Linked DNA regions of Homo sapiens. The protein of the gene in region 1 purifies or fractionates together with the protein of each later gene. This does not show direct contact. Each region holds a gene or a part of one and is shown in the gene's direction. Other genes may lie near its edges. The genes, in order: KATNAL2, AKAP8L, WDR62, KIF11, CEP97 and ASPM.

Region 1 (4,845 bases):
ATAAACACAAAACAGTAAGAAAAGAAAAGCAAAGCCCCACTGAAACTTACGTGCAGTGTTCTTTGTAGTTGCTTCCCAGCATTCATTCTGCCCCTTCCTCAATGTGTAGCAGCTCCTGGATGGGTTGGGTAGGTTTGACTGCAAAGAGTTCTAGGTGCTGCCCTAGACTGGCCTGAGTCATTAAGGACTGTTATGTCATTCTGGCCACAGTATTAGATCACAACTGGGCATATAAATCTGATTAGTACTGAGCATTTATAGGCTTTGCCAAGTAGATCAAGTGTGGACCCGTGCCCTAAGGTAGGCTAATCAGAGGGAAGCCTAGGACATTTATTCAGTGATTAGAGATAAGACTTTCTGGCATGTGGAACACTCGCCATTTTGCTACAGTGAAGAGCCAACCTGAGAACCAACCCTTCTTGTGAGCAGAAAAATCACACACACACAAAATCTCAGCATTGACTTTGATACTCACTCTGCCTCTGTACTGGCCAGTTTTCTTGAGCCAATGCCTTTCTTGTAAGGTTTTAGATTGTTTGAGTTGAGATTTCTATTAGTTGCAATAGAAAGAATTCTGAAATAGGGTGCTACTTTGTCTCACCAGACCAGATTATTAATTTGGCATTTTTTCTAATCTATACTCCCCAATAATCATTCAATATATGTTCAAAGGAATGGCTGAGTGGTAAAGGGTAGAAAGGGCATGTTTCTCTTCACTGTTGTGATCATTTCTGCTCTGGTCTAGATTTATATATCCTCATTAAAAAGAAATCCCTGCACTTACTTGAATCCAACTTCCTTATAACATAGTAATGTGGTATACCCTTAAAGGGGAGTGGAGAAGGAGGGAGGTGCAGTAATCTTATCACTCACAAAAGGCCACATATCAAAGTACCAGTGCCAGCCACATGCTGAACTCTTCTACCAGAGGAATTCTATTAAATATATCCTTTTTCTTTATTACATTTCCAATGGTAAAATGTTTTAGTGCTCTTTATGGATTGAATCTCCAGGCAATTACCTGACTAGGCTACCGTCTTAAAATGGCTCCAAATTAGAAGATTCATTATAAGTACTGTGATTAAAGTGTCCTAAGTTTTTTTGTTTGTTTGTTTTTTGTTTCTGTTTTTGCTTTTTGGGACGGAGTCTCGCTCTGTTGCCCAGTCTGGAGTGCAGTGGCACGATCTCGGCTCACTGCAACCTCTGCCCCCCCGAATTTAAGCAATTCTCTGCCTCAGCCTCCCAAGTAGCTGGGATTACAGGCACCCGCCACCATGCCCAGCTAATTTTTGTACTTTTAGTAGAGATGGGGTTTCACCGTCTTGGTCAGGCTAGTCTTGAACTCCTGACCTCGTGATCCACCTGCCTTGGCCTCCCAAAGTGCTGGGATTACAGGCATGAGCTACTGCGCCTGGCATAAAGTGTCATAAGATTTTAATACACGAAGTCAAAAATCTCAGGAGTAGCTTTTCCATTTACTAGCTGTGTAACTTTAGCAAAGTCTCAACTTAATTTTTCTAATCTGGAAAAGAAAAATGACTACACCTATCTCAGGATGAGATACCTGATCTGATAGATCAGGTGTATGAGTGTACTCTGTAAATTTATAAAGTGAAAGATGGTAAATTTTTTGTATCTAAACAGCTAAGCTGATTTTGAATCTAAACAGCTGATAAACACATAACAAAAAAAAAAAAGCACTTCATTAAGAAACATAATTAAGAACCATATGATATATCCTAGTAATTTTAGCAAAGAGCATTCCAACCTGGTTGGACCAACCATGTAACCTTGAGTTTAGTTCCAAGCACCTGTCTTCTTAATCCTTTCACATCTGTCTCTGAACCCATTAGACTTTACTGATTTTAATATCTCTCTTTTCCTTCCCACTGATTACTTCCTCTCTCCCTATAACAGTGCTCAGGCCTCCCAGATGTTTTCCAAGCCACTTTACTTCTTTTGCTAAGCATATATCTATTTATATCACATTTCCTAACTCCTACACACTTTGCCAATACTGTCTTAGTCTTAGACTTTACCAAAACTAGTATCAAGGAAACTGAACAAGGAATTAAAAAAAAATTTTTCCTCACTTTTTTTTTTTTTTTTTGAGACAGGGTCTCACTCTGTCGCCCAGGCTAGAGTGCAGTGGCATGATCACAGCTCACTGCAACCTTCACCTCCCAGCTCAAGCAGTCTTCGTACCTCAGCCTCCCAAGTAGCTGGGACCACGGGCACACCACCACTCTCAGCTAATTTTTGTATCTTTTGTAGAGACAGGGTTTCACCATGTTGCCCAGGCTGTTTCAAACTCCTGGATTTAAATGATCCTCCCACCTTGGCCTCCCAAAGTGCTAGGATTACTGATGTGAGCCGCTGCTCCCGGCCTCAACTTTTTATTCTGAAAACCTTAATCACAAATTTGTTTCTTCTCCACTTTCACTGCATCACTTGACTAGCCTTTTAAAAAAAAAAACCAAATAATTAAAAAATAAAAAGTTGAGGCTGGGCGCGGTGGCTCACACCTATATTCCCAGCACTTCGGGAGGCTGAGGTGGGTGGATCGCCTGAGGTCGGGAGTTCGAGACTAGCCTGACCAACGTGGTGAAACCTCATGTCTATCCGCTAAAGAAATAAAATGAGCCAAGTGTGGTGGTGCATGCCTGTAATCCTAGCAACTTGGGAGGCTGAAGCAGGAGAATCGCTTGAACCCAGGAGGCAGAGGTTGCAGTGAGTGGAGATCATGCCATTGCATTCCAACCTGGGCAACAAAAGTGAAACTCCATCTCAAAAATAAATAAATAATAAAAAGTTGAAACATAAACTTCGAAAGCATAGCAGTATGGTTATCTGTATAAGATTTATAATTTAATATATAATATCATATTAATATAATATATATTTAATATATAATATTATATATGATATTGTATATATAATATAGTTAAATCCTTAGATCTGAAGTAAACACTTCAGTCCATATAGAAAAATTCTTATCAACATACAGAACTTTTTTTTTTTAGACCTTTAGTAAGATCTCAACTTATTTTTTTTTTAATTTTATTATTATTATACTTTAAGTTTTAGGGTACATGTGCACAACGTGCAGGTTTGTTACATATGTATACATGTGCCATGTTGGTGTGCTGCACCCATTAACTCGTCATTTAGCATTAGGTATATCTCCTAATGCTATCCCTCCCCCCTCCCCCCACCCCACAACAGTCCCCGTCCCCGGTGTGTGATGTTCCCCTTCCTGTGTCCATGTGTTCTCATTGTTCAATTCCCACCTGTGAGTGAGAACATGTGGTGTTTGGTTTTTTGTCCTTGCGATAGTTTGCTGAGAATGATGGTTTCCAGTTTCATCCATGTCCCTACAAAGGACATGAACTCATCATTTTTTATGGCTGCATAGTATTCCATGGTGTATATGTGCCACATTTTCTTAATCCAGTCTGTCATTGTTGGACATTTAGGTTGGTTCCAAGTCTTTGCTATTGTGAATAGTGCCTCTGTAAACATACATACATGTGCATGTGTCTTTATAGCAGCATGATTTATAATCCTTTGGGTATATACCCAGTAATGGGACGGCTGGGTCAAATGGTATTTCTAGTTCTAGATCCCTGAGGAATCGCCACACTGACTTCCACAATGGTTGAACTAGTTTACAGTCCCACCAACATTGTCAAAGTGTTCCAGCTGCTCCACATCCTCTCCAGCACCTATTGTCTCCTGACTTTTTAATGATCGACATTCTAACTGGTGGGAGATGGTATCTCATTGTGGTTTTGATTTGTATTTCTCTGATGGCCAGTGATGATGAGCATTTTTTCATGTGTCTTTTGGCTGCATAAATGTCTTCTTTTGAGACGTGTCTGTTCATATCCTTTGCCCACTTTTTGATAGGGTTGTTTGTTTTTTTCTTGTAAATTTGTTTGAGTTCATTGTAGATTCTGGATATTAGCCCTTTGTTGGATGAGTAGGTTGCAAAAATTTTCTCCCATTCTGTAGGTTGCCTGTTCACTCTGATGCTAGTTTCTTTCACTGTGCAGAAGCTCTTTAGTTTAATTAGATTCCATTTGTCAATTTTGGCTTTTGTTGCCATTGCTTTTGGTGTTTTAGACATGAAGTCCTTGCCCATGCCTATGTCCTGAATGGTATTGCCTAGGTTTTCTTCTAGGGTTTTTATGGTTTTAGGTCTAACATTTAAGTCTTTAATCCATCTTGAATTTATTTTTGTATAAGGTGTAAGGGAGGGATCCAGTTTCAGCTTTCTGCATATGGCTAGCCAGTTTTCCCAGCACCATTTATTAAATAGGGAATCCTTTCCCCATTGCTTGTTTTTGTCAGGTTTGTCAAAGATCAGATAGTTGTAGATATGCAGCATTATTTCTGAGGGCTCTGTTCTGTTACATTGGTCTATATCTCTGTTTTGGTACCAGTACCACACTGTTTTAGTTACTGTGGCCTTGTAGTATAGTTTGAAGTCAGGTAATGTGATGACTCCAGCTTTGTTCTTTTGGCTTAGGATTGATTTGACAATGCAGGCTCTTTTTTGGTTCCATATGAACTTTAAAGTAGTTTTTTTCTAATTCTGTGAAGAAAGTCATTGATAGCTTGATGGGGAAGGCATTGAATCTATAAATTACTTTGGGCAGTATGGCCATTTTCATGATATTGATTCTTCCTACCCATGAGCATGGAATGTTCTTCCATTTGTTTGTATCCTCTTGTATTTCGTTGAGCAGTGGTTTGTAGTTCTCCTTGAAGAGGTGCTTCACATCCCTTGTAAGTTGGATTCAATACCTTGTAAGGTATTTTATTCTCTTTGAAGCAATTGTG
Region 2 (4,845 bases), on another chromosome or scaffold:
GTCTAGATGAAGGCTTCCTCCTGAAGGGACCCAGCTGGGATGTCCATCAAGGAGTCTGGGTTGCTCCAGGCATAGCAAGTGGCATGTAGTGAGTGTTTGCCTGGAGGGACTCCTGAGAGTTGCCCATCGTGGGAGGCCCTGCTTGTCCTTAAAACGTAAAGTGGTGTTCACGGAGTTGATGCTGCTTCCTTTCGTTGTGCCTCCTCACTCTGTTGTGGCAGATCCTCAGCAGGTGAAGCTTGCAGTGACCACATTGTAGCCTCCCAAGCAGAGCCCTGATGGATCTGCTTTTGCCTCCATATCCTATTTTCTTTTTCTTTTCTTTCTTTTTTTTTTTGAGACAGAGTCTCGCTCGGTCGCCTAGCCTGTAGTGCAGTGGTGCAATCTTGGCTCGCTGCAACCTCCACCTCCCAGGTTCAAGTGATTCTCCTGCCTCAGCCTCCCAAGCATCTGAGACCATAGACGCGCACCACCACACCTGGCTAATTTTTGTATTTTTAGTAGAGATGAGGTTTCACCATATTGGCCAGGCTGGTCTCGAACTCCTGACCTCGTAATCCACCCACCTTGGCCTCCCAAAGTTCTGGGATTACAGGCATGAGCCACCACGCCCAACTCCTATTTTCTTTAGAATAGCTAGTGCCCACTGTCCCTGGTACAAACAGTCACTTGGCCAGGTGTACAGTAGCTGCCTGGGCTACCTGTGTGTTGTTCTATTTTTTTTTTTTTGAAATGGAGTTTCACCGTGTCGCCCAGGCTGGAGTGCAGTGGCGCGATCTCACCTCACTGCAAACTCTGCCGCCTGGGTTCAAGCAACTGTGCCTCAGCCTCCTGAGTAGCTGGGACTACAGGTGTGCACCACCACGCCTGGCTAATTTTGTATTTTTGGTAGAGAAGGGGTTTCACCATGTTGGCCAGGCTGGTTTCAAACTCCTGACCTCAGGTGATCCGCCCGCCTCGACCTCCCGAAGTGCTGGGATTACAGGCGTGAGCCACTGCACCCAGCCTTGTGTGTTTTTCTTTATGTGGCTCTGCCAGCCTCTCTTGCCTCTTAGAATGGCTCCATTCTTTCCTCAGCTACCACTCCTGACTTACCCATGCTGCTCTCTGGCTGTTAGCATCTCTCTTACCAACAGGCAGATCTCCATGCCTGAGCAGTGCCTGGGACTGCAAGCCTCTGTTCCCTGTGCTCAGGGGATACATAAACAAATGGATGAGAAGCCTGTTTTGGTTTCTCCAGCCCAAGAGTTTTTGTTTTGTGAGCTCTCTTGTTAAACATAGTGGTCATCAGCAGTTCCTCAGCTTCTCTCTGATTTCTTCCCATTCTTTTTGTGCACTGGGTCGTGGAGGAACCCAAGTGCAGGACGACAGCCTGCCTGTTCTCTCTGGCTCATCTTTTCAGTTGACTTACACTCTTCCTGCTGTGGTCTGGCTTCTGCCACTTATTGCCCTGCTGTCTGTCTCACTGAGCTTCGGTCCCCTGCCCTGGGATGAGCATGTCCTCTGCGGGGCAGAGATGACATGGAATGGGAAACAACTGTTGGGTCTCACCAGAGACCCAGGGAAAGGGGTCACCTGCTCTGTGCCCTCCTTTGGGGAGGAACTGTGTGTTTGACTCAGAGTTCCCAGGGGACTTTACACTTTGTCACTTCTCAGTGGCTTTATGTTACTGAAGGAATGAGGTTTTATCATGTGTTGTGATTGAATCCAGAGCATATTAAGTTGATAATCCAGATTGTTCTCTCCACAGCTTTTCTCAAGCGAGGGGTTGCTTCTTGGGCTTCTCTCACTGATGTGTTCCAGCACAGCACAGTCAACAATTCAAGGGCTTGTTGGCCCTCCCTTTTAAGGCAGACTCTTGGGAGACTGGGGTTGGGTTTTCTGCTATAAACTGATTAGCACTTAGCTTGGGGTGTGGAGGTCACCTTCTAATTCTGGCTCTTAAAGGGAGGAGTATAGGAGCCAAGTTCCTTAGTTGAGAGTGTTGGGAACAGAAGGATCCTTAAATAACAGATGCTCAGAGCCACAGGCAGCCAGGCACCAGGGCAGCAAGTGGCCTGGGTCATTTGCGCAGTGCTCGCGAGCTCAAGGCTTCTCGGTTAGGGGAGGTGCAGCCTGCTCTGACCAGTCAGGTCCTGGGAATAATTGTCTGCGCCTGAATTATGGCCTTGTATTGTAAGCAAGTATAGATGTAACTGCCCTTTTACTTTTTGTAGGATATGGAACTTGGAACTCTGGGACAAATAGAGGCAAGTGTCATTCCTGTGATTGCTGTCCTGTCCCTTGGGGTTGTCCTGGCTGTGTTTCTCTGCCACTGCCCTGCTTGGCCAAGGTTGGGAGTGGGGAGGGGGCATGTTTCTGGGGTTACCTACTCCTTAACAGGAGGCCCTCATCAGAATGACCAGGGCCCATCTAGCTTCAGTGGCTAGGGTCTTCTCTCTCTGTGACAGAAGATACCCTTGTATCTGTGTTTGTCTCTGTCTCTGTCTGCCTCCCCTCTGCCTGCCCCCACCATCTGTCTGTCTCTGTCTCCCTCACTGCAGGCTACGAGGGCTATGGCTATGGCTATGGCTATGGCCAGGATAACACCACCAACTATGGGTATGGTATGGCCACTTCACACTCTTGGGAAATGCCTAGCTCTGACACAAATGCAAACACTAGTGCCTCGGGTAGCGCCAGTGCCGATTCCGTTTTATCCAGAATTAACCAGCGCTTAGATATGGTGCCGCATTTGGAGACAGACATGATGCAAGGAGGCGTGTACGGCTCAGGTGGAGAAAGGTGAGTGGACACCTGCCTAGGGGTTGAGACTCTGCAGGGGCGGCTCCTGCCTGCTGCCCACTGCGTTTTCCTCTCTGAGTGCCCCTCTGTGTCTGCTTCCTCCCCGCTGCTTGGTGCTGCTGTGGCTCCCAGCAGGGTCCGTTGCACTTCCCGTCTCTGACTTGTGTCTCCTCTCACCCACCCTCAACCCCTGCCGCACTGCCTGGTGGTCAGCCTTTCCCAGCTTGCGGTGAGAGGAACAAGCCCAGACTGGGCAGACTTCACTGTGCCCTCAAAAACAGAGTGTTCAGCCACCCCTCCCTCCAAGGACAGCCATTTGGAATTCTCTCGAGACTTTGCCTCCTGCGTGGTGTCAGGGCAGGACAGATGGAGTTTGGTGTGAAGGGTGGGACGAGCGTTTGGGGCTGATCACTGCGAGCTGGGCCACCCCCACGTAAGGGTCGGGGCAGGTGTGGGCATTTCCTGGTTACTCTCCTGTGCCTTACAAACATGTACCTGATGGAAGCACTCCTGTGAGGAACTGCTGCTGTCCTCATTTTGCAGGTGGGGATACAGAAGTGCAGGCAGGTCATACCCTGAAGGCACGCAGCAAGTACTTGGTGGGGCTGGGCCTCGCCTACCAGATCTGCCCTACTCCAAAGCATCATGCTGTGGGCATTTGTTATTAACTGAACTGGACTTGGCCCAGGAGTGCTTATGCCCAGTGCGAGGCTTTGGTGAGGAGCGTGGGTGTATCTCTAACATGGGATAGAGTGGAGCACCAGCTAACAGATGAGTGAGAGCCAAGAGTAAGGAGTTGCCTGGCTGAGCACTGATAGGGCCAAGGGAGGCCCCAGGGCTGTGGTGGCAGGGTGTGGAACAGGCACAAGGGGATTTGATGCCATGGGCTCTGTAACTCCTGGCCCAACAGCTGCAGCACTCAGAGCTGAGGGCTTGGCATGTGAGGCTTGGCCTTGCGTTGCTGCTATGCACCTTCTTACCACAGCCTGGAGCCTGGGATCGGGGTAAGCAGAGCAGCGGCAGCACCAACTGCTGCTCTTAGAGCTGCCGGTGCCTCTTGGTGGCCCAGGTTTAGGGAAGAGTGTGCAAGGGGAGCCCCTGTGCCTGTGAGGTGTGTGGGGTCCAGGCCTGTAGGGGTGTGGGCTGCGGGCTGCAGTCACGGTTAAAAGAGCTCTCTGCGGTGCCCTCTGTGTCCTGGGAGGAGGTCTGGCCTGCCTTCCCAGTTGCAATACAGGGTATATAGAGTTTGGTGTCTGGCTCTGGGCTCCAGGGTTGATGTAATACAGCTCTTTTTCTTGTCCCTGGGCAAGCTCTCAGTGTCTTCCCTGGGAAATACTCCCCCTTTTGTCTCAGTTGTTTTGGTAATGAGGGACTTTGCAGAGTTTGAAGGTTCCCCAGCCATGAGGGACAAGAACAGTGTTTCCCATGGGTATCATCAGCCTCACTGGCTGCGCATTCATTGTGCTGGACCTGCCTGCATCCTGCAGGGTGCTGGGGTGCTCAGCCTTGCCCTGTGAGGAGCAGCCTTGGGCGTTGCAGCTCCCACAGATGGTGTACATGTTCCCAAAGGGCTGTGGAGCAGCTCTGCCCCTTGTTGAGACTCACTGGACTAGAGCCTCCACCCCAGTTATCAGTCCTTCAGTCCTTCTTAGGGTCCCCAAGCCAGTGTGTGGCTACATTCAAGTTTGGGGCAGTGGTGCCCCTATATCAGCTGAGAGGCTGGAACTCTTTAATCGGCATTTCTGAACATTGAGCCTCCCAACCAGGGCAGGGTGGGTGCTGGACTGGGAGATTGGGGAGGGCAGGAGCAGTTGCCTGGAGGTGAGGGATCCTGAGGGGCTCCACCTGATGCTCACCCCATGCCTCTGCAGGTATGACTCTTATGAGTCCTGCGACTCGAGGGCCGTCCTGAGTGAGCGCGACCTGTACCGGTCAGGCTATGACTACAGCGAGCTTGACCCTGAGATGGAAATGGCCTATGAGGGCCAATACGATGCCTACCGCGACCAGTTCCGCATGCGTGGCAACGACACCTTCGGTCCCAGGGCACAGGGCTGGGCC
Region 3 (4,260 bases), on another chromosome or scaffold:
AGATGGAGTCTTGCTGTCACCCAGGCTAGAGGGGAGTGGCACCATCTCTGCTGACTGCAGCCTCCACCTCTCTGGTTCAAGTGATTCTCGTGCCTCAGTCTCCCATGTAGCTGGGATTACAGGTGCCTGCTGCCATGCCTGGCCAATTTTTGTATTTTTAGTAGAGATGGGGTTTCACCATGTTGGCCAGGTTGGTCTCAAACTCCTGACCTCAGGTGATCCGCCCGCCTTGGCCTCCCAAAGCGCTGGGATTAGGGCATGAGCCACCACACCTGACCTTTTTTTTTTTTTTTTTTTTTTTGAGACAAGAGTCTCACTCTGTCGCCCTGGCCGGAGGGCAATGACGCGATCTCAGTTCACTGCAACTTCCGCCTCCCAGGTTGAAGCGATTCCCCTGCGTTCAAGCGATTCTCCTGCCTCAGCCTCTCGAGAGTAGCTGGGATTACAGGCACGCCCCCACCACACCCGGCTAATTTTTGTATTTTTAGTACAGACGGGGTTTCACCATGTTAGCCTAGGCTGAAGGCTAGGACCATAGTAGGGTCTCCAGACCTCATGGTCCTCTTCATTAAAACAACAGAAAATTCCTTCTGGGCCATCAGATGAGATCATGAGATAGGAGAAGATTTCCAAGTGAAGATTTCGTTTGTTTCAAGACAGAGTCTTGCTCTGTCACCCAGATGATATATGGATGATATATGGTAGCATTTTGTGTCCTTTTTCTTGTTTATTTTTAGCATAGAAGGTATTGCACGATGCTGGTCTCAAACTCCTGACGTCAGGTGATCCACCCGCCTTGGCCTCCCAAAATGCTGGGATTACAAGCGTGAACCACCATGCCCGGCTCCTCAAGATGTTTTCTAGGCTGGGCACGGTGGCTCATGCCTGTAATCCCAGCACTTTGGGAGTTACAGAGTTGGTGGAGTTATATCCTGATGTGATTTTCCCCATGTTCTTCTTTCGTTCTCTCATCCCCCATGCTGTGTGCCCCACCAACTTGTCTTGAAACATATCTTCACTCGGTTCGCCTCTCCTGATCTCCCCTCTGCCTCAGGTCATGTTATTAGGCCTCAGACATAGCAAGTGACCAGAGTAGGGAAGGCTGGTGGCAGATGGGAGTCTGGCCACAGGCAGTCAATAGGACCTGAACAAGGCCCAGGTAGCCAGACCTCAGAGGGTGAGAGGACACTGGTTTTGGAAGAGGCTGAGAGGTTGCCAGGGCTTTACCCAGCACAGACCCAGCAGGCAAGAGCGCTGGGCTCTGCTGGGGCGTCTGCTGTGGATGTCCCTGGAGGAGCGTCCATGCGCCCATCGAGACTCATCCTCCCTGAGCTGGTGGTGAGGAGGTGAAATGCCAGGGTGTGGGGGCTCTGGGAAAGACCACACAGAGCTAAGGGAGTGGCCCTTGCCAGGCTTGGGCCAAGTTGGCTACAGTTGAAGAACCAAAGACCCCTTCTCCGAGGACTGGGCAGCTTGGTCACACTGCCCTTCTGGGAGGCCAGGGCACCCACGCAGCCTTCAGGAACCAGTCTCATTCTCTCCTCTCACAGGGCTGACCTTGCTGGCCTCAGCCAGTCGGGACCGGCTGATCCATGTGCTGAACGTGGAGAAGAACTACAACCTGGAGCAGACGCTGGATGACCACTCCTCCTCCATCACCGCCATCAAGTTCGCTGGTGAGCCCCTTTCTTCCCGCTCCCTGCGCCTTGCTAGCTACCCTGCTAAAAAAGGATTCATTCTTTCAACTCTCCTGTAAAATATATATCCAAACAAGTGAATACAGTATCTGTGTACAGTATACAGAATAATGACTGGGGCCGGGTGTAATGGCTCACACCTGTAATCCCAACACTTTGGGAGGCCAAGGAGGGTGGATCACCTGAGGTCAGGAGTTCGGGACCTTCCTAGACAACATGGTGAAACCCCGTCTCTACTAAAAATACAAAAATTTGCTGGGCGGGGTGTTGTTTCTGTAATCCCAGCTACTCAGGAGGCCGAGGTGGGAGAATTGCTTGAACCTGGGAGGTGGAGGCTGCACTCCAGCCTAGGCAACAGAGTGAGACCCTGTCTCAAAAAAAAAAGAATAATGGCCAGGTACCATGGCTCACACCTGTAATCTCAGCACTTTGGGAGGCCAAGGCAGGTAGATCATGAGGTCAGGAGTTCGAGACCAGTCTGGCCAACATAGTGAAACCCCATCTCTACTAAAAATACAAAAAAATTAGCCAGGCATGGTGGTGTGCACCTGTAATCCCAGCTACTCGGGAGGCTGAGGCAGGAGAATTGTGTGAACCCGGGAGGCGGAGGTTGCAGTGAGCCAAGATTGCGCCAGTGACTCCACTCCAGCTTGGGTGACAATGCGAGACTTTGTCTCAAAAAAAAAAAAAAGAAGAATATAGGCCGGGCGTGGTGGCTCATGCTTGTCATCCCAGCACTTTGGGAGGCTGAGGCAGGCAGATCACCTGAAGCTAGGAGTTTAAGACCAGCCTGGCCAACATAGTGAAACCCCGTCTCTACTAAAAATTCAAAAAAAGTAACCGGGCATGGTGGTGCACACCTGTAATCCCAGCTACTTGGGAGGCTGAGGCAGGAGAATAGCTTGAATCCAGGAGGCCAAGGTTGCAGTGAGCCAAAATTGTTTCACTGCACTCCAGTCTGGGTAACAAGAGCAAAACTCCATCTCAAAAAAAATAAAAATAAAAAATAAGCTGGGCGTGGTGGCCGAAGTGAGTATCCACAGTTCTTAGGAGCAAGGTTTGAACTAGGACGTTGTTGATAGCAGAGACTGTTCTAATTGCTCATGGTCGTAATATTGTTAAATACGGTACTTGGATTCACCACGTGCAGGTTAAGAAGCAGAACATTACCAGAGGCTTGCAGGCCTTCTCTGGGTCCCTCCCAGGTTACCCTTCCTCCCTTATATGGGGCTCACTCCCTTCTGTGAGCCAATGACTCCTCCTTGAGCAACATCTAATACTTGTATGTCAGGCCTGGACCCTCTCAAATGTCCTGTCATGAAGGAGCATGTGTGATGTGCCCAGACTCAGAGTTTTATATTTGTTCTGTCATTTCATCCTCACCAAACTGTTATTCTGTAAAGAAATGAGACGGCCGGGGGCATCTCACGCCATTGCACTCCAGCCTGGGCAACAAGAGCGAAACTCTGTCTCAAAAAAAAAGAAATGAGAATAATAAAAGCAAGAATGTTTCTAATGCTTACCATGTGGCAGTCCCTGTTCCAAGGGCTTCACATCACTCTCCAGAGAAGGAACTGTCACCATGCCCATTGTACGGACCGGAAGTTGAGGCTCAAAGGGGAGGCCCAGGTTCAGAGCAGTGTTTAACAGCTTTGACCTTGGCACCAGAGAATGCCTGGGTTCAGTCCTGCCCCTGTCCTCTCTGTGTGCCTTGGGACAAGGACTCTGTGAACCTCTGTGTTCATGCTTGTCCAGTGGGATGGGTGGTGAGCATTCAGGAAGACCCGCTACATGCATGGGGCCTGGCCCAAGGCTCATGTGGATCTTGCAGTTGATCCTGATGGCACGAGCCTCCCAGCCTGTCTCCACTGGTCGCTGCTGCAGTCCTGCCTCTACTCCGCTACTCAAGTCACCTATCTCAATCCCAGACTGGAGAGGGTGTCCCTTCTTTGTCCCCAGCCTTTGTTTCTCTATATGCCCTTGCTCTGCAGAGCCTGCCTTGGCCACAGCTCCACCTGTGCCCCCTCACACGTACAGCTCATACCTTACAGAGTCCCACCCAGACCCAGCACCCACCTCACCACCTTTAGGAAGCCTTGATCCCAGCACAGTTGATTGATGGCTCTTGCAGTGGAGTTCCCCAGCTAGGGTCCCCTGCCCATGTGGCCCAGCCCTGCCTAACACACAGCGTCCTCCTCCCCTAGGCAACAGAGACATCCAGATGATCAGCTGTGGGGCTGACAAGAGCATCTACTTTCGCAGTGCCCAGCAGGTAGGGTGGCATGGCCTCCTTGGGGGCTGGGGTGGGGGGTTGTCGGGGCATTCTCTGAAGGTCCTGCCGGCCCTGCCAGGGTTCGGATGGACTACACTTTGTCCGTACCCACCACGTAGCAGAGAAAACCACCTTGTATGACATGGACATTGACATCACCCAGAAGTACGTGGCCGTGGCCTGCCAGGACCGCAATGTGAGGTAAGGGGTGGCCCTGGACCCTTAGCTGGCCTGGTCTGCCTTGTCCTAGGCTGTCTGCTTTCCTCCCTCTGTTCCTCTGGTCCCCAAGAA
Region 4 (4,845 bases), on another chromosome or scaffold:
GAGAGACTACATATATATATATTTTGTTTTGTTTTGTTTTGTTTGTTTGTTTTGAGATGGAGTCTCGCTCTGTCGTCCAGGAGTGCAGTGGCGTGATCTCGGCTCACTGCAAGCTCTACCTCCCGGGTTCATGCCATTCTCCTGCCTTAGCCTCCCGAGTAGCTGGGACTACAGGCGCCCACCACCACACCCGGCTAATTTTTTGTATTTTTAGTAGAGATGGGGTTTCACCGTGTTAGCCAGGATGGTCTTGATCTCCTGACCTTGTGATCCACCCGCCTCGGCCTCCCAAAGTGCTGGGATTACAGGCATGAGCCACCGTGCCCAGCCAGCCTCTCCTTTTCTTTATTTGTATTTATTTATTTTTTTCAGCCTCTCCTTTTCTCGGCTCACTGCAACCTCTGCCTCCTGGGTTCAAGCAGTTCTCTTGCCTCAGCCTCCCGGGTAGATGGAATTATAGGCATGTGCCACCACGCCTGGCTAATTTTCGTATTTTTTTTTAGTAGAGATGGTGTTTTACCATGTTGGTCAGGCTGGTCTCAAGCTCCTAACCTCAAGCAATCCACCCACCTCGGCCTCCCAAAGCGCTGGGATTACAGGCGTGAGCCACCGTGCCCGGCCGAGAGTACGTTTATATTTTTAAAGACAGATCTCTCCACTGTTTATTCTCTCCCAGAAAGATTATTTTCAAATGTATGGAACTAACTTTTGAAACCTTTTTCACTCATGTCTTGTAACATTAGGAGTAGCAGTTATTAGTGAGGCTTCTAATGACTAAAGGGCAAGTTTAGCACCACATGATATCAAGGGACTTGTTAGTTGGCCCAGAAATTGGCAAGTCACTCTTTCCCCAGGGGTCCTGGACCCAACCAGAAGGGGATATTGGGTAGCTGATTTTAAAACTACAGTAATATATGATAGTAATAATGGTGCAAGAAAAATATCTTAGAATTCTGGGGACACATATCACTTCTTAGGGTTAGATCTGTGTGGCCCCTTCTGGGCCATAACTATAAATCTTTTCTCCAGAGTTCTATGGAAGTCACTCATCTAATTGCACTTAATATTACCTCCTTCATACTTGATTTATATATAGTCTTTATTTTATAATTGTATGGTTGGTCTAGGAAGTTCTTAGCCATATAATTTATTTGTTTTCTTTGTGCAGAGTCTTTGCCTCCCTTTTTCAGCTTAACAATATTTATTAAACATTTTCCAAGTAAATACTACAAATGTTAGCTGACCCTCTGCCTCAATTCAGTGCTTAGATGACATTATTTGATAGGTTTTCTCAATCACCCAAATTTGACAAAATTAAAAGATATCCTGTCAGTACTAACTTTTCAAATATTGATTCATTCATTAAATGGTGGTCTGTATATATATAGGCATACTTCAGAGATATTGCAGGTTTGCTTCCAGACCACTGCAATAAAGTGAATATTACAATAAAGCAAGTCATGAATTTTTTGCTTTCCCGGTGCATATAAAGGTTATGTTGACCAGGCGCAGTGGCTCACACCTGTAATTCCAGCACACGCCTGGTGGGACAATCAGAACACAACGTTTATCAGTTACATTTGCTGTCTTATAGGGGTACAGTTTATGGTACCCCAAGACAATTACAATAGTAACATCAAAGATCATTGATCACAGTGTATAATGAAAAAGTTAGAAATACTGTAGTAGTTACCAACATGTGATGCAGAGACAGAAAGTGAGCACATGATATTTGAAAAAAGTCACTGATAGACGTGCTCAAGGTAGGGTTGCCACAAACCTTCAATTTGTAAAAATTTGGTATCTGTGACACATAGTAAGGTGAAGCACAATAAAATAAGCTATGCCTGAATTGATACATTTCTACTTACCAAGTTACAATTTTTGCTTGAATTAAAAGAAAAGAGGCATGTTGCTCTCACAAAATTAGTTGAAATTGGTATGCTAGCTCTTCTTTCCAAAAGAATGTCAGTAGACCTATAAGTATTTACTAATGTATTTCTGTTATACTTCCTCAGCCCTATCCTACCAAAAGGAGATTAGATCAGGATTTTTTTTCTTTTTATAAATATTTCCAATCTATACTACATTCTTAATTTCCCTATTTCTTGACAAGAACAACATCTTTCACAAGTTCTTCTGATACAATAGGATGTAAGTCATCTCAGATCTTCAAAGTTAAGTACTTCCAGCCCAAGGGCTAATCTTGATGACTACTTGGTCTCAGCCTTTTTGACTGGTAACCTAAACTTGTTTGAAATTTATTTTCTTAAAATATACCTGTAGGTTTTTAAAAATTTATTTTGTTTGGAGTGCTGAAATCTTATTAACTGTCATTTTCCTCTTTTGAATTCTTCTGACTTCTATTTCATTAAACTATTAAATAGTTCTGGCTGGGTGCGGTGGCTCATCTCAGCACTTTGGGAGGCCAAGGTGGGTGGATCACTTGAGGTCAGGAGTTCGAGACCAGCCTGGCCAACATGGTGAAACCCTGTCTTTACTGAAATACAAACATTAGCTAGGCGTGGTAGCAGGTGCCTGTAATCCCAGCTACTTGGGAGGCTGAGGCAGGTGAATCGCTTGAACCCAGGAGGCGGAGGTTGCAGTGAGCCAAGATCACGCCATTGCACTCCAGCCTGGGCCACGAGAGTGAAACTATATCTCAAAAAAAGAAAAAAAGAAATTCTGTGTTTTCACTGGGCTTGAAAAAAGAGAAATTATTATATTTATTGTAATATAATAAATTATTGTATTATTGTATTGATTTATCTATGTAGAGTATAAAAAATGGAGAATGGGGCCGGGCGCGGTGGCTCACGCCTGTAATCTCAGCACTTTGGGAGGCCACGGGGGGCGGATCACCTGAGGTCAGGAGTTCCAGACCAGCCTGGCCAACATGGCGAAACCCCATCTCTACTAAAAATACAAAAATTAGCTGGGTGTGGTGGCTCACACCTATAATCCCAGCTACTCCGGAGGCTGAGGCAGGAGAATCACTTGAACCCAGGAGGCAGAGGTTGCAGTGAGCCAAGATGTTGCCACTGTACTCCAACCTGGGTGACAGAATGAGACTCCGTCTCAAAAAAAAAAAAAAAAAAAAAGAATGGAGAATGGAAATGTAAATTTTAATGTGAATGTTTAGCTACCAAAGTATTTAAGATATCATTTAGAAAGGTTTACAGAAGTGGAAATATTCTTTTTAAAGACCTATTTGTTTATTTCTGAAACCAGAATGTACTCAAGACTGATCTTCTAAGTTCACTGGAAATGATTTTATCCCCAACTGTGGTGTCTATACTGAAAATCAATAGTCAACTAAAGCATATTTTCAAGACTTCATTGACAGTGGCCGATAAGGTAACAAATGCTATGTTCTTAATATCTCAAAATTGATGTGTTGTTTAAGAAGGAAACTCATTTTTGTTTCTTCAAAGATAGAAGATCAAAAAAAGGAACTAGATGGCTTTCTCAGTATACTGTGTAACAATCTACATGAACTACAAGAAAATACCATTTGTTCCTTGGTTGAGTCACAAAAGCAATGTGGAAACCTAACTGAAGACCTGAAGACAATAAAGCAGACCCATTCCCAGGTATGTTGTTTAGCGGACTTGGGGAGTACAGAAAGAGAGTTTTAGGATGATTTGATATGACTTGATAATTAATCTATGTTACACAATCTGAATACTGTAAAAGCTGAAACCTGAAAATACCATAGCCACTGTTGCTTATAACAGTAATTATTGTAGAACAATTGAGAATACTTCTCTTAATATTTGAAGTTTTGCTACATCTAGAACCCCATGCAGAACCACAATATGACAAAACAGTCCTTTTCTCACATCAAGATGAAAGATGAATCTGGAAAAACATACCTTTAGAGAAGAATGGTTATAACATTTAAAGTGAAAATGTATCTACATTAAAACCTGCTAAGTTGTTTCTAGGATGGCATGGATAGTTGTCTTTCATAAACCAAGTCCTACTTTCTCTTATTTCTGTCTCACTGATAGACATTTAAAACATAGTAAATCGATACAACTTTTAATTCTTATTGATTATAAATGTAATTCATGATTTATCTTCCCTGTAAACTGTTCCTCATTATATGAGGCTTTAAACCAAAACCAAGCCTTCAAACCATAATCTGTAAATATCAGATATCTGAAAAACAGCTTCTGGTATTCTTAAGACTTTAATAATGACTGTCTAAAGTTTTATTAAATGAGCTTATTATAATATGACAGAACTCTTATAATAGTTAACATTTATTGAGCAATTCACTGTGTTTATTCCTCCCATCAATATAGATATAAATTCTATTACTAGTCAGATTTTTAATGAGGAAACTGAGACCCTGTGAGCATCTAATAGTATGTAGATCATCTTGCAGAAGGTGGTAGTGATCATACTACCTGAAAAGCATCCATGTTTGAGTGGCTCTTTTGTGTGTTTTTTGGCAACTTAAAACTGCAGCATTTTCTCATACATCTACATAGGGTATTTCCCTTAAACCCGTTGAGAACTTTTTAGGTGTATATTCTAAGGCTGATCCCCTTTTTATAAATTTGCTGTTTTGAAATGCTTAAAATTGTTAGACAGCTCTTTAAAAAAACAATACAAAAAAATCTGATCTGAAAAGTATCTTAGCATGAATGGTTTGGCTTTCCTGGCTTTAAGGAAGCAAGTTCAGTATGTGAGCTATTTCTTAGGTTTTCCAGAACTTGAAATGAGCACTACTAAAATAATTATGTAAAACTTTGAACACATTTACATATAGATAAATATAATACCTGCATTAGCATTCAAATTATTAATCTGATAATACCTTTGAGACTAGTAAAA
Region 5 (4,845 bases), on another chromosome or scaffold:
ATCTGTCTTTGTTCTATTTTCTTTGCTTTCTTTTCTCTCTCTCTCCCTTGCTTTTCTTTCTTTCTTTTGGTTGTAGTTGAAGAAGTCAGAGTATTTGTCCTATAGAGTTTCCCATTATCTGCTCATTTTACCAACTACATCCCTGTGTCCTTTGACATATTCCTCTCCCTTTTGTATTTTCTGTAAATTGGATATGGATGTTTGTTCAGATTCAGGTTTGATTTTTTTTTTTTTTTTGAGGGGTGGACTATAAGGTTGGTGGACTATAAGGTTGACAGGTATGATTATAGCGCACTATAGCCTCACACACCTGACCTCAAGTGATCCTCCCACCCCAACTCCTGAGTAGCTGAGATTACACATGCCACCATGCCCGGCTAGTTTTTTTTTTTCTTTTAACTGTCATTATGAACTAATGGATTCAAATGCAGTTCATCTATTTAGGCATTTCAGTGTGACAGAATGAATGGGGAGAATACTCATTGCTTCCTTGAAAATGATTTAAAAATATTTGGCACCATTAGTCCAAGCTCAATGGAAGTGCCCCTAAGCAAGAAAAAGGGTTTGAAACATTATTAGAATGGTGAATATGAGTCAGAATGATAGATTTTTTAAAAAAATTGAGTGAATTTTATTTATGAAAAACATACAATGGTGCTATAAAGGTAAGTTAACAAGGAAGATCATTGTTGCCTGACAATGTGTGTTGACTATTCTCATGCCATCTCCTCTTTTTTATGTTCCCCAATTCCAGTTTGAAAGCTGAATGGCTCTATAGTCAAGGCAAGGGGAGAGCATATCGGCCTGGCCAGCACATCCAGCTTGTCCAATATCTGGCTACAGTCTGCCCCCTCACTTCTACACTAGGTCTTCAAACTGCAGAGGATGCCAAACTAGAGAAGATTTTGAGCAAACAGAGGTAAGCCCATTTATTTCTAACAACTGATGAATTCACAAGTTAAAATACCTCTGAGTCTTTGCTATGGTGATAGTAAGCCTGAGGCAAGTGCTGCGGCCCACATTTCTGGACACTCAGTCCCCTTGTCACTGCAACAGTTCCTGCAGGGAAGCTGAATCGTGCACTGCAAACAGCCAAACAATATGGTATGGAGGAATAGAGGGGTTTTTTTGTTTTAAAGACAGGGTCTTGGTCTCTTGGTCTGTGAGTACAGCAGTGCAGTCATAGGTCACTGCAGTTGCAACTACAGGTGCATGCCACCATGGTTGGCTAATTTTTTGTAGAGATGAGGTCTCACTTTGTTCCTCAGTCTGATTTTAAACTCTTGGCTTCAAGCAGTTCTCCTGCTTCGGCCTCCTAAAGTGCTAGGATAATAGGTATGAGCTACTACACCAGGAAACGGGATAGGATTTTTAAAAAATATATTTGTTCTTTTTTTTTTTTTAAGACATAATATCACTCTGTTGCCCAGGCTGGAGTGCTGTGGTGTGATCTCAGCTCATTGCAACCTCCATCTCCCAGTTCAAATGATTCTCGGGTCTAAGCCTCCTGAGTAGCTGGGATTACAGGCATGCGCCACCACACCTAGCTAATATTTTATTTTTAGTAGAGATGGGTTTTTGCCATGTTAGCCAGGCTGGTCTTGAACTCCTAACCTCAGGTGATCTGCCCGCCTTGGCCTCCCAAAGTGCTGGGATTACAGTCATGAGCTACTGCGTCTGCCACCCCTCCCCCTTTTTTCTTTTTTGAGGCAGGAGCTCACTTTGTCACCCAGGTTGGAGTGCAGTGGTGTGATCTCAGCTCCTTGCATCTTCAGTCTCCTGGGCTCAAATGATCCTCCCTCTTCAGACCCCCTTCAGTCCGTGCCTGTAGCTGGGACTACAGGCACGCACCACCAAGCCTCGGCTAATTTTTTATATTTTTTGTAGAGATGGGGTTTCATCATGTTGCTCAGGCTGATCTTGAACTCCTGAGCTCCAGCGATCCACCTGCCTTGGCCTCCCAAAGTGCTGGGATTACAGGTGCGCGACACCGTGCCCGACCTATTTGTTCTTTAATGTAGGTGTTTCTTGTGGGTTTTTGAATACTTAAGAGGTATATCTGCCTTCAAAGGGTACAGTGAAAAAAAAGAGAAAAAGTATTGCCAGAAGCATTTAATATTTACTTTCTTTATCAGAGATCCTGCCTTTAAATGTTTTTGTATGTGTGTATGTGTGCATAGTAGGGTCTGTCTTTGCAATTACAAAATAAGCTTCTTAACTTTCTTTATCCAGTGCTTTCAAATGAGGATTTATAATTTGGCATTAATTAAAAGTACCTACTTTGAGAACTTGTAAACTTCTGCCTTTTTGACATTGTTACCTAGGAAGCAGAAAATCTTTCTTTTTTTGGTTTGTGTTAAATTAGACCAGGTATTATTGATTTTTAGGTTTCACCAGAGGCAGTTGATGAACCAAAGCCAAAATGAAGAGTTGTCTCCTCTTGTTCCTGTTGAAACAAGGGCATCCCTTATTCCTGAGCATTCAAGCCCTGTTCAAGATTGCCAGATATCCCAGGAAAGTGGTAAGAAATGAATTTATCTCTGATCCCTTTTCTCCAAGTTGTTTAATTTGTCGGGTATCATAAAGCAGAAAAAGGTGCATATTTTCATAATTTTTTGTTAGTTTACTAACTTCAGTAATCATTTAGATCTTATACATATCTATGTATAAACACACCTATATATGTATGTATATTATAACTGCTATATTTCTAATTTTAAGAAACATTTCAAGGACTACTACCTTTTATATAGACCTGATGCTTTGATTATTCTTATGATTATCACAAGAATTCATTTTCTTAAAAATGTTTGGTTTGATGTTTTCGGCATATTGGAAGAAGTCACTGAGGGGATTTTTTTGCATTTTACTCTATTTCAAGGAATAGATTTCATTAAAGGGACATAACTAAAATGTAAACATTTAGTGGTTTAAATGATACTCTGTTGATTCTTCTAGAACCCGTCATTCAAGTGAATTCTTGGGTTGGGATAAACAGTAATGATGATCAGTTATTTGCGGTTAAGAATAATTTTCCAGCCTCTGTACACACTACGAGATATTCTCGAAATGATCTGCACCTGGAAGACATACAGACGGATGAGGACAAGTTAAACTGTAGTCTTCTCTCTTCAGAGTCTACTTTTATGCCAGTTGCATCAGGACTGTCTCCACTATCACCTACAGTTGAGCTGAGGCTGCAGGGCATTAACTTGGGCCTAGAAGATGATGGTGTTGCAGATGAATCTGTGAAAGGGCTGGAAAGCCAGGTGTTGGATAAGGAAGAGGAACAGCCTTTATGGGCTGCAAATGAGAATTCTGTTCAAATGATGAGAAGTGAAATCAATACAGAGGTAAATGAGAAAGCTGGACTATTACCTTGTCCTGAGCCAACAATAATCAGTGCTATCTTGAAGGATGATAACCACAGTCTTACATTTTTTCCTGAGTCAACTGAGCAGAAACAATCAGACATAAAGAAACCAGAAAATACACAACCAGAAAATAAAGAAACCATATCTCAAGCAACTTCAGAGAAACTTCCCATGATTTTAACCCAGAGATCTGTTGCTTTGGGACAAGACAAAGTTGCCCTTCAGAAATTAAATGATGCAGCCACCAAGCTTCAGGCCTGTTGGCGGGGATTTTATGCCAGGAACTACAACCCTCAAGCCAAAGATGTGCGTTACGAAATCCGGCTACGCAGAATGCAAGAGCACATTGTCTGCTTAACTGATGAAATAAGGAGGTGGGTCAGAAGTCCTTTTGATGCACTGTTTTGTTGGTTTGAGGGTGTTAGATTCTTATAGTTGATTCAGAACACTGTGCTTCTGTGATTATAACACTTTTCACACAATGTAGCCACTGTTGCTTTGGTTGTCTCCTACAGTGTACCGAAAGCATCTGGAGAGCAGACACTATCTGCTCTATCTCCTCATCTCCATCCCCAGCAAAGCACTTGATACATAGATGCAGTGTAGTAATAAATGTTCAATGAACGTGAGCTTTATAGGGATCTATAATTCTAAACATAGAAAGGTACAGAAAACATTGAAAAACCAAGTATAAAAATGAGAAGATGATGAAGTCTACATGGAATTCAGTACATGACATAAGAAATAAAGAAAATAGCAGGGATTCAGAAGGGGCTAAAATTCTATATGACTACAATAGGAATTATTCCTTAATCCCATGGCTCGTATGTTTTACTGACTGCTAGCCCAGGAAAGTTAGGATTTCATTAATATTGCAACTAGTAATATTTACTGGTATTATCAGGTAGAAGAGAAAGAGGCAGCAAAGGATACTGAGAAGGGACAGCCAGAGTGGTAGGAAAACTAGGAGAGTTCCACCTTCAACAGGAGCAAGTGTTTCAGGAGAGATGAGAGGTGCCACAGAGAGGACACAGGCATTAAACTTGGCAGTTGGAGGCTATTGGTGACTGTGTTGGTGATTCTCCAGACTATCCTCAGGTTGGATGATTTGCTAAAAGGACTCACAGAACTTGGGAAAATACTATTCTGTTCGTCATTATGGTTCATTACAGCAAAAGGATACAGATTAGAATCAGTAAAGAAAAAAGGTGCCTAGGGCAGAGTCTAGGAGACATGAGGTGCAAGCTTCCAGTTGTTCTCTTTCAGTGGAGTTGTACAGACAGGGCTTAATTTTCTCAGCAATGATGTATGATAACACATATGAAGTATTGCCAACTGACGAAAGTTACCTCATCTTTGGTGTCCAGGGTTTTTATTGTGGGCCAGTCACATAGGTATTGAGTACCCATGTAACTGATCTTAACTATTTACACCTCAGACCACATAGAGGTCACACTGATACTCCATGGCC
Region 6 (5,388 bases), on another chromosome or scaffold:
ATAGATCCGTAAATAATGATAATATCAAAGCTATTTCACAAAGTCCTTTGCACTTGCTGCAGGTGGTCCAAAAATTTGGCTATACTAAGTATGGACTTTTGTATTTTGTTTTTTTGGTTGGGTTGTTTGTAAATGTATGTGTTTATTACAACTTTTAATTTCATTCTGTTCTCTTCAAGTATGAGAAAACTACTTCAGCAGTTTATGATGTAGAAAATTGTATAGATATACTATTGGAGCTTTTGCAGATATACCGAGAAAAGCCTGGTAATAAAGTTGCAGACAAAGGCGGAAGCATTTTTACAAAAACTTGTTGTTTGTTGGCTATTTTACTGAAGACAACAAATAGAGCCTCTGTAAGTATTAGTCAGTTGCCTTTCTTTAAGATTATTTTTCTGTGGTCTTAAGTCTATGACTTTTATAGTTTTCCTTTAGTAATTATCACTCTAAAATAGGGTTTTATGTGTGTTCAAACCTGCTTTTTGCACGGATAAAATGAATTCAGGATGTATCTATGAGTTGTTTCTTTCTGACTATTAAAGAAACTGAATTCTGAAAATAAATTTATTACAGCCATATAAGTAACCATTTCCCATTTACTAGAGAGAAAAGTATCCTAGCAAGATAGAAAACCAGATAGGTATAACTTCTTATCCTCCTGTTGTAACCATAATTGTATTTCAAGCTTTTCTACGATGAGACCTCTGAGTCATTCTTTTTAAGTGTCATAATTAACATGGGGAAACCATAGGCCATAATTGGACTGTGGCCTTTATCCTGGTAAGTGGGAACCGCTGCAGGGTAAAGCAAGGGAATAATATTTTCCAATTTAAATTTTAACAACACTCTGGCTTCTGATTGAAGAATGAATTTGGGAGAGCATGTGTGGATATAGTGAGACCATCAAAGAAGGTGGCAAGTGTTGATATGTAGTGATCTAGGCAAGAGATTGTGCTTGTCTTAGGATTGTGTCGCTGAGAGGTAAGTAGAAGACTTTGGAAACTGCAGAGGTAAACTTTTCAAGACTTGGTAACTGGATATGATAGGTGTGTTGACTATAATTGCTATGTTGACTATAATAATTCCTTCTTATATTCAGTGTGGAGTTAAGTATGCAACTTTTGAATATTTATCTTCCTTATAATTGCCTTGCAAATTAGCTCGTAATTTAAATCAATCTACCTGCCAAACTTGGTGAGGTTTCTTTGATTATTCAAAGCTTAAAAGTTTACTGCAGGCTGGGCACGGTGGCTCACGCCTGTAATCCCAGCACTTTGGGAGGCTGAGGTAGGCAGATCACGAGGTCAGGAGATTGAGACCATCCTGGCTCACACGGTGAAACTCCATCTCTACTAAAAATACAAAAAAAATTAGCCGGGTGTGGTGGCGGGTGCCTGTAATCCCAGCTACTTGGGAGACTGAGGCAGGAGAATGGCGTGAACCCGGGAGGCAGAGATTGCATTGAGCTAAGATCGCACCACTGCACTTCAGCCTGGGCGACAGAGCAAGAGAGACCATCTCAAAAAAGAAAAAAAAAAGGTTTACTGCATAGTTTTTATTATATTTGATTTTGCTAGTCTAAAAGAGATAAAATTTTAATTCTTATTACTTTTTAGTAACTGTGCATTTTATTTTGTAGGATGTACGAAGTAGGTCCAAAGTTGTTGACCGTATTTACAGTCTCTACAAACTTACAGCTCATAAACATAAAATGAATACTGAAAGAATACTTTACAAGCAAAAGAAGAATTCTTCTATAAGCATTCCTTTTATCCCAGAAACACCTGTAAGGACCAGAATAGTTTCAAGGTAAGCAATTAAATATAGTCCATAAATTTGTGTCACTGTTCATTCATTCATTTAACAAATATTTATTGAGCACTTACCATAAACAAGATGTGCTTTTCAGTGGAGAAACAACATATGAATAAGAATGGAATGTTTGGTAAATTTAAAAGAAGCAGTCTTGGTAAATAAAGAAATAACATTATACTGTAGCTTTGGACATTTAATAGTTATTCAACAAACTTCTTATATTAAATAGTTAAGAGCTAAGGCTAAGAAGCTTGTTATAAGTTTTGTCATTTTATTTTATTTATTTTATTTTGCATGAAAGACAAACTACACTGTTTAAGAAGTGCCAAAAGTCCTTCTTAGCCAAAATATCAACCTCCAGTCCTCCCATAATCACCCTGATTCTTGAAATTTCTCCTTCTGGAAATTTAGATTGACATTTTCTGATTTTATTGGCAAAAAGATTTAATTTATTTTGGTGAACCGTCATGGCATTTAATTAGTGTTTTTACTCCCTTCCTTCTTTCTCCCTCCTCCTTTTTTTCTTCCCCCTTCTCCCTCTCTCCCTCCCTTCCTTCCTTCTTTCCTTCTTGAGACTTAGCAATTCTCTATACTAGGTACAAATCCTACATTATTGACAACACACTATTTCTTGACCTGAGTGGTTACACAGCCATTAGCTTTATAATTATACTCATAATTATAAACTGTATAATGTAGTTATAAATTGGTTTTATGCATGCATATTTCACAGCATAATGTAAAGTTCATTTGCTTGAAATATATTAATGGGACCATTTCTACATGTTTTTTAAGGACTTGGTAGAATTTAATATTCATTATGTTTTAAAAGCTCATACTAACATATGAATGGATTCTCTTAAAATTTTGATGTAGGTCAGGCTTTTGAGGTAAAATTTACTGACAGTATAAATGCATCCTTTAAATGTATGCAATTCAATTCGTTTTGACAAATGTATACAGTTAGGAAACTACCACCACTGAGATACAAAATATTTCTGTAACACAAAGTTTCCTTATGCCCCTTTGTTGTCAGTTCTCTTTCTTTATTCCCTGGATTTTGGGAACTACTGATCTGATTTTTGTACCTTTAGTTTTGCCATTTCTATACTGTCACATATATGGAATCATATAGTAGATAGCTTTTTGTGACTGGATTCTTTTCCTTAGCATAATGCTTTTGAAATTCGTTCATGTTTATGCATGGATTTGAATTTCATTCCTTTCTATCACTTAGTACTATTCCATTGTATGGTCGTACCACACTTTGTTCACTCACCAATTGATATATCTTTGGATTTTTAGCAGGACAAAATAAGATGATGGAAATGCATATAGTAGGGAATTATGTGAGAAGATGCATGAACTCCCTCGGTTTGATACTATTTTCTCAATAAGTTTGAGATTATAAACTCAACAACTCAGAAGCAGCTCAGAGGGTATGGAGGGGAAGTTTGAAAAGAGGAAAGGACCAAGATAGTCATCTTGGAGAGAAAGGGAGCATGCTGGCAATTTCAAATGCTCATTTTAGATTTGTAATTATTGGCAAAAAATAAAATCAGCTTGGTTGTGTAAACATTTTTAGTAATATGCAGCTGTATAGGAATGGAGAAGGCAGATATTTTGACTCAATTTGAAATCCAAGTAGAATTCTTCAGACTAGTTTGGTAGGAGAGAGAGACAACAGTTAATGGCATTTGCAAAGGTTTTGATAATACTGATGCACCTGAGCTAGATACACAGGAAAGTAAGGACAGCATTCTGGTGGATGTTGGGTATGTGTTGAGGCCAAATGAAGTGGAGATCTCAGTGGGGTAGAAGAACTGGTTCAATGACTGTGTTAGAGCATATGACATGGATGAATCAGAAATGGTGGATGGAGAATGGAAGTCTCAAGATTTCAGTGGTCGCACACTTTCTGATGATGACAAAGTCTAGTATGTGATCATATTAAAAAGGATTGGTTGAGGTAGAATTGAAGGAAAGTGGGGCAAAAACGGACTAGGTTGTTGGCTTTTTGGCCACATAGATGTTGCTGTTGCTGAGAACGGTGACAGTAGGTAAGAGGAGAACAAGAACCAGGTTTACAAGGAATAAGACACTGAGAGTTTGGCTGATGACCAAAAGGCAGTGGTCAAGCTAAATAGCATAAGCTTCAAAGAAGCCAGCATTATTTTTTAGAAAGGATGGAGAGAAATAGTCTGGAACTAGTGATGGGCAATAATATGAAGTTCTCCCACCTCTTTGAGCAGTTTGTAAGGGAAATGATGTGTTCAGGAGTAGCTACAATTTAGTTAAGAGAAAAAAGGTGAAGGTAACTCTAAAGAGAAGAACTTTATTAATGCCAGACTTTTTTTTTTTTTTTAACAGACTTAAGCCAGATTGGGTTTTGAGAAGAGATAACATGGAAGAAATCACAAATCCCCTGCAAGCTATTCAAATGGTGATGGATACGCTTGGCATTCCTTATTAGTAAATGTAAACATTTTCAGTATGTATAGTGTAAAGAAATATTAAAGCCAATCATGAGTACGTAAAGTGATTTTTGCTCTCCGTGTACAACTTTTAAAATCTGACTTTGTTTTAAAAAAACATAAACTGTTCATTACATTCTTCATTTTTATCATTTATAGTTTTATGCATGTAATAAACTAATATGTCATAAGATGATTATATTATTCCTGTCTATTATCTTAAAGTATTATAGTAGTTTCAATGTAATCTTATTACTAAAAGGAAATAATAGCTGATTACACCTTTTTTATAGGTAAGTTGAGGAATTTTCATAAAACAAATGTTAGAAATTGAAGTTCTGTCTACTCACTAAGAAGTGAGACTAGGATAAAATAATCTCACAAATTCATATCAATGGCATCCTTATCTATATCCTTGACTGGCTAAAGCATCCAGATAAGCAAGTGAGCCCTTCTAGGCTCACAAAAAGAATACACCCACCACTGTATTTACTAAAAATTCTTACCATTGAACTGATGGGGGTTATAATTTGAAGTGGAAGGAACATGCTATTGCTTATAATAGAATCTTGTTGTGTAGTTATACACCACAGACCTGAAAATGATTCAGTATTGAAATGTGATTTTTTTTCTACTCTTTGAGTCACTATTACTAGTATCTGTGGTTTCAGGGCCACAGATGTCTAATTCTTATGGCTGAAATCTGAATAGAGTCTCAAAGTCTGCCCATGGGAGTTAGAATCCCTGGGCTCATCCTTTTCTTTCATCACTTTGTTCAGTGAACTTAGGAGTATCAACTAACTTCATTATATTCCTTGGTTCTCCACATATGGTCAAAGGTATTATTTATAGAGACACTAAACTCCTTGCTTCTCAGGAGCAGTTAATAAGGAGTATCAAATGCATTTATTTTGCATAACTCTCTAAACAATTCACATAAAAAACTATCAGTGTTCTCCATACTATTAGAAATAGAGTCCTTAGCATTTTTGGATCTAATCAGATTAAACAGCCAACTCCAGAAACCCCAAAACCAGCTAAAGAAATCCATCCTTAAAACTCTGTTCCTCTAGAACAACTACTGGTACCAAAATCTGTA

Evidence for each region.
Region 2: the proteins of KATNAL2 (region 1) and AKAP8L fractionate together in Homo sapiens (co-fractionation; one large-scale study listed by BioGRID). This does not show direct contact.
Region 3: the proteins of KATNAL2 (region 1) and WDR62 purify together in Homo sapiens (tandem affinity purification; one large-scale study listed by IntAct). This does not show direct contact.
Region 4: the proteins of KATNAL2 (region 1) and KIF11 purify together in Homo sapiens (tandem affinity purification; one large-scale study listed by IntAct). This does not show direct contact.
Region 5: the proteins of KATNAL2 (region 1) and CEP97 purify together in Homo sapiens (tandem affinity purification; one large-scale study listed by IntAct). This does not show direct contact.
Region 6: the proteins of KATNAL2 (region 1) and ASPM purify together in Homo sapiens (tandem affinity purification; one large-scale study listed by IntAct). This does not show direct contact.

Annotation. Positions count from the first base shown.
Region 1 is NC_000018.10:46,920,009-46,924,853, forward strand, and holds part of KATNAL2 (katanin p60 ATPase-containing subunit A-like 2), read left to right. Parts: intron 1-50; coding exon of another isoform or gene 51-86; exon of another isoform or gene 87-137; intron 138-4,845.
Region 2 is NC_000019.10:15,401,414-15,406,258, reverse strand, and holds part of AKAP8L (A-kinase anchor protein 8-like), read left to right. Parts: intron 1-2,216; coding exon 2,217-2,249; intron 2,250-2,543; coding exon 2,544-2,784; intron 2,785-4,655; coding exon 4,656-4,845. UniProt on the Homo sapiens protein: Could play a role in constitutive transport element (CTE)-mediated gene expression by association with DHX9. Increases CTE-dependent nuclear unspliced mRNA export.
Region 3 is NC_000019.10:36,085,137-36,089,396, forward strand, and holds part of WDR62 (WD repeat-containing protein 62), read left to right. Parts: intron 1-1,550; coding exon 1,551-1,676; intron 1,677-3,901; coding exon 3,902-3,969; intron 3,970-4,048; coding exon 4,049-4,170; intron 4,171-4,260. UniProt on the Homo sapiens protein: Required for cerebral cortical development. Plays a role in neuronal proliferation and migration.
Region 4 is NC_000010.11:92,633,953-92,638,797, forward strand, and holds part of KIF11 (kinesin-like protein KIF11), read left to right. Parts: intron 1-3,231; coding exon 3,232-3,357; intron 3,358-3,434; coding exon 3,435-3,593; intron 3,594-4,845. UniProt on the Homo sapiens protein: Motor protein required for establishing a bipolar spindle and thus contributing to chromosome congression during mitosis. Required in non-mitotic cells for transport of secretory proteins from the Golgi complex to the cell surface.
Region 5 is NC_000003.12:101,754,676-101,759,520, forward strand, and holds part of CEP97 (centrosomal protein of 97 kDa), read left to right. Parts: intron 1-754; coding exon 755-919; intron 920-2,387; coding exon 2,388-2,521; intron 2,522-2,958; coding exon 2,959-3,748; intron 3,749-4,845. UniProt on the Homo sapiens protein: Acts as a key negative regulator of ciliogenesis in collaboration with CCP110 by capping the mother centriole thereby preventing cilia formation. Required for recruitment of CCP110 to the centrosome.
Region 6 is NC_000001.11:197,083,224-197,088,611, reverse strand, and holds the end of ASPM (abnormal spindle-like microcephaly-associated protein), read left to right. Parts: intron 1-179; coding exon 180-356; intron 357-1,639; coding exon 1,640-1,809; intron 1,810-4,185; coding exon 4,186-4,288; 3' UTR 4,289-4,485; downstream 4,486-5,388. UniProt on the Homo sapiens protein: Involved in mitotic spindle regulation and coordination of mitotic processes.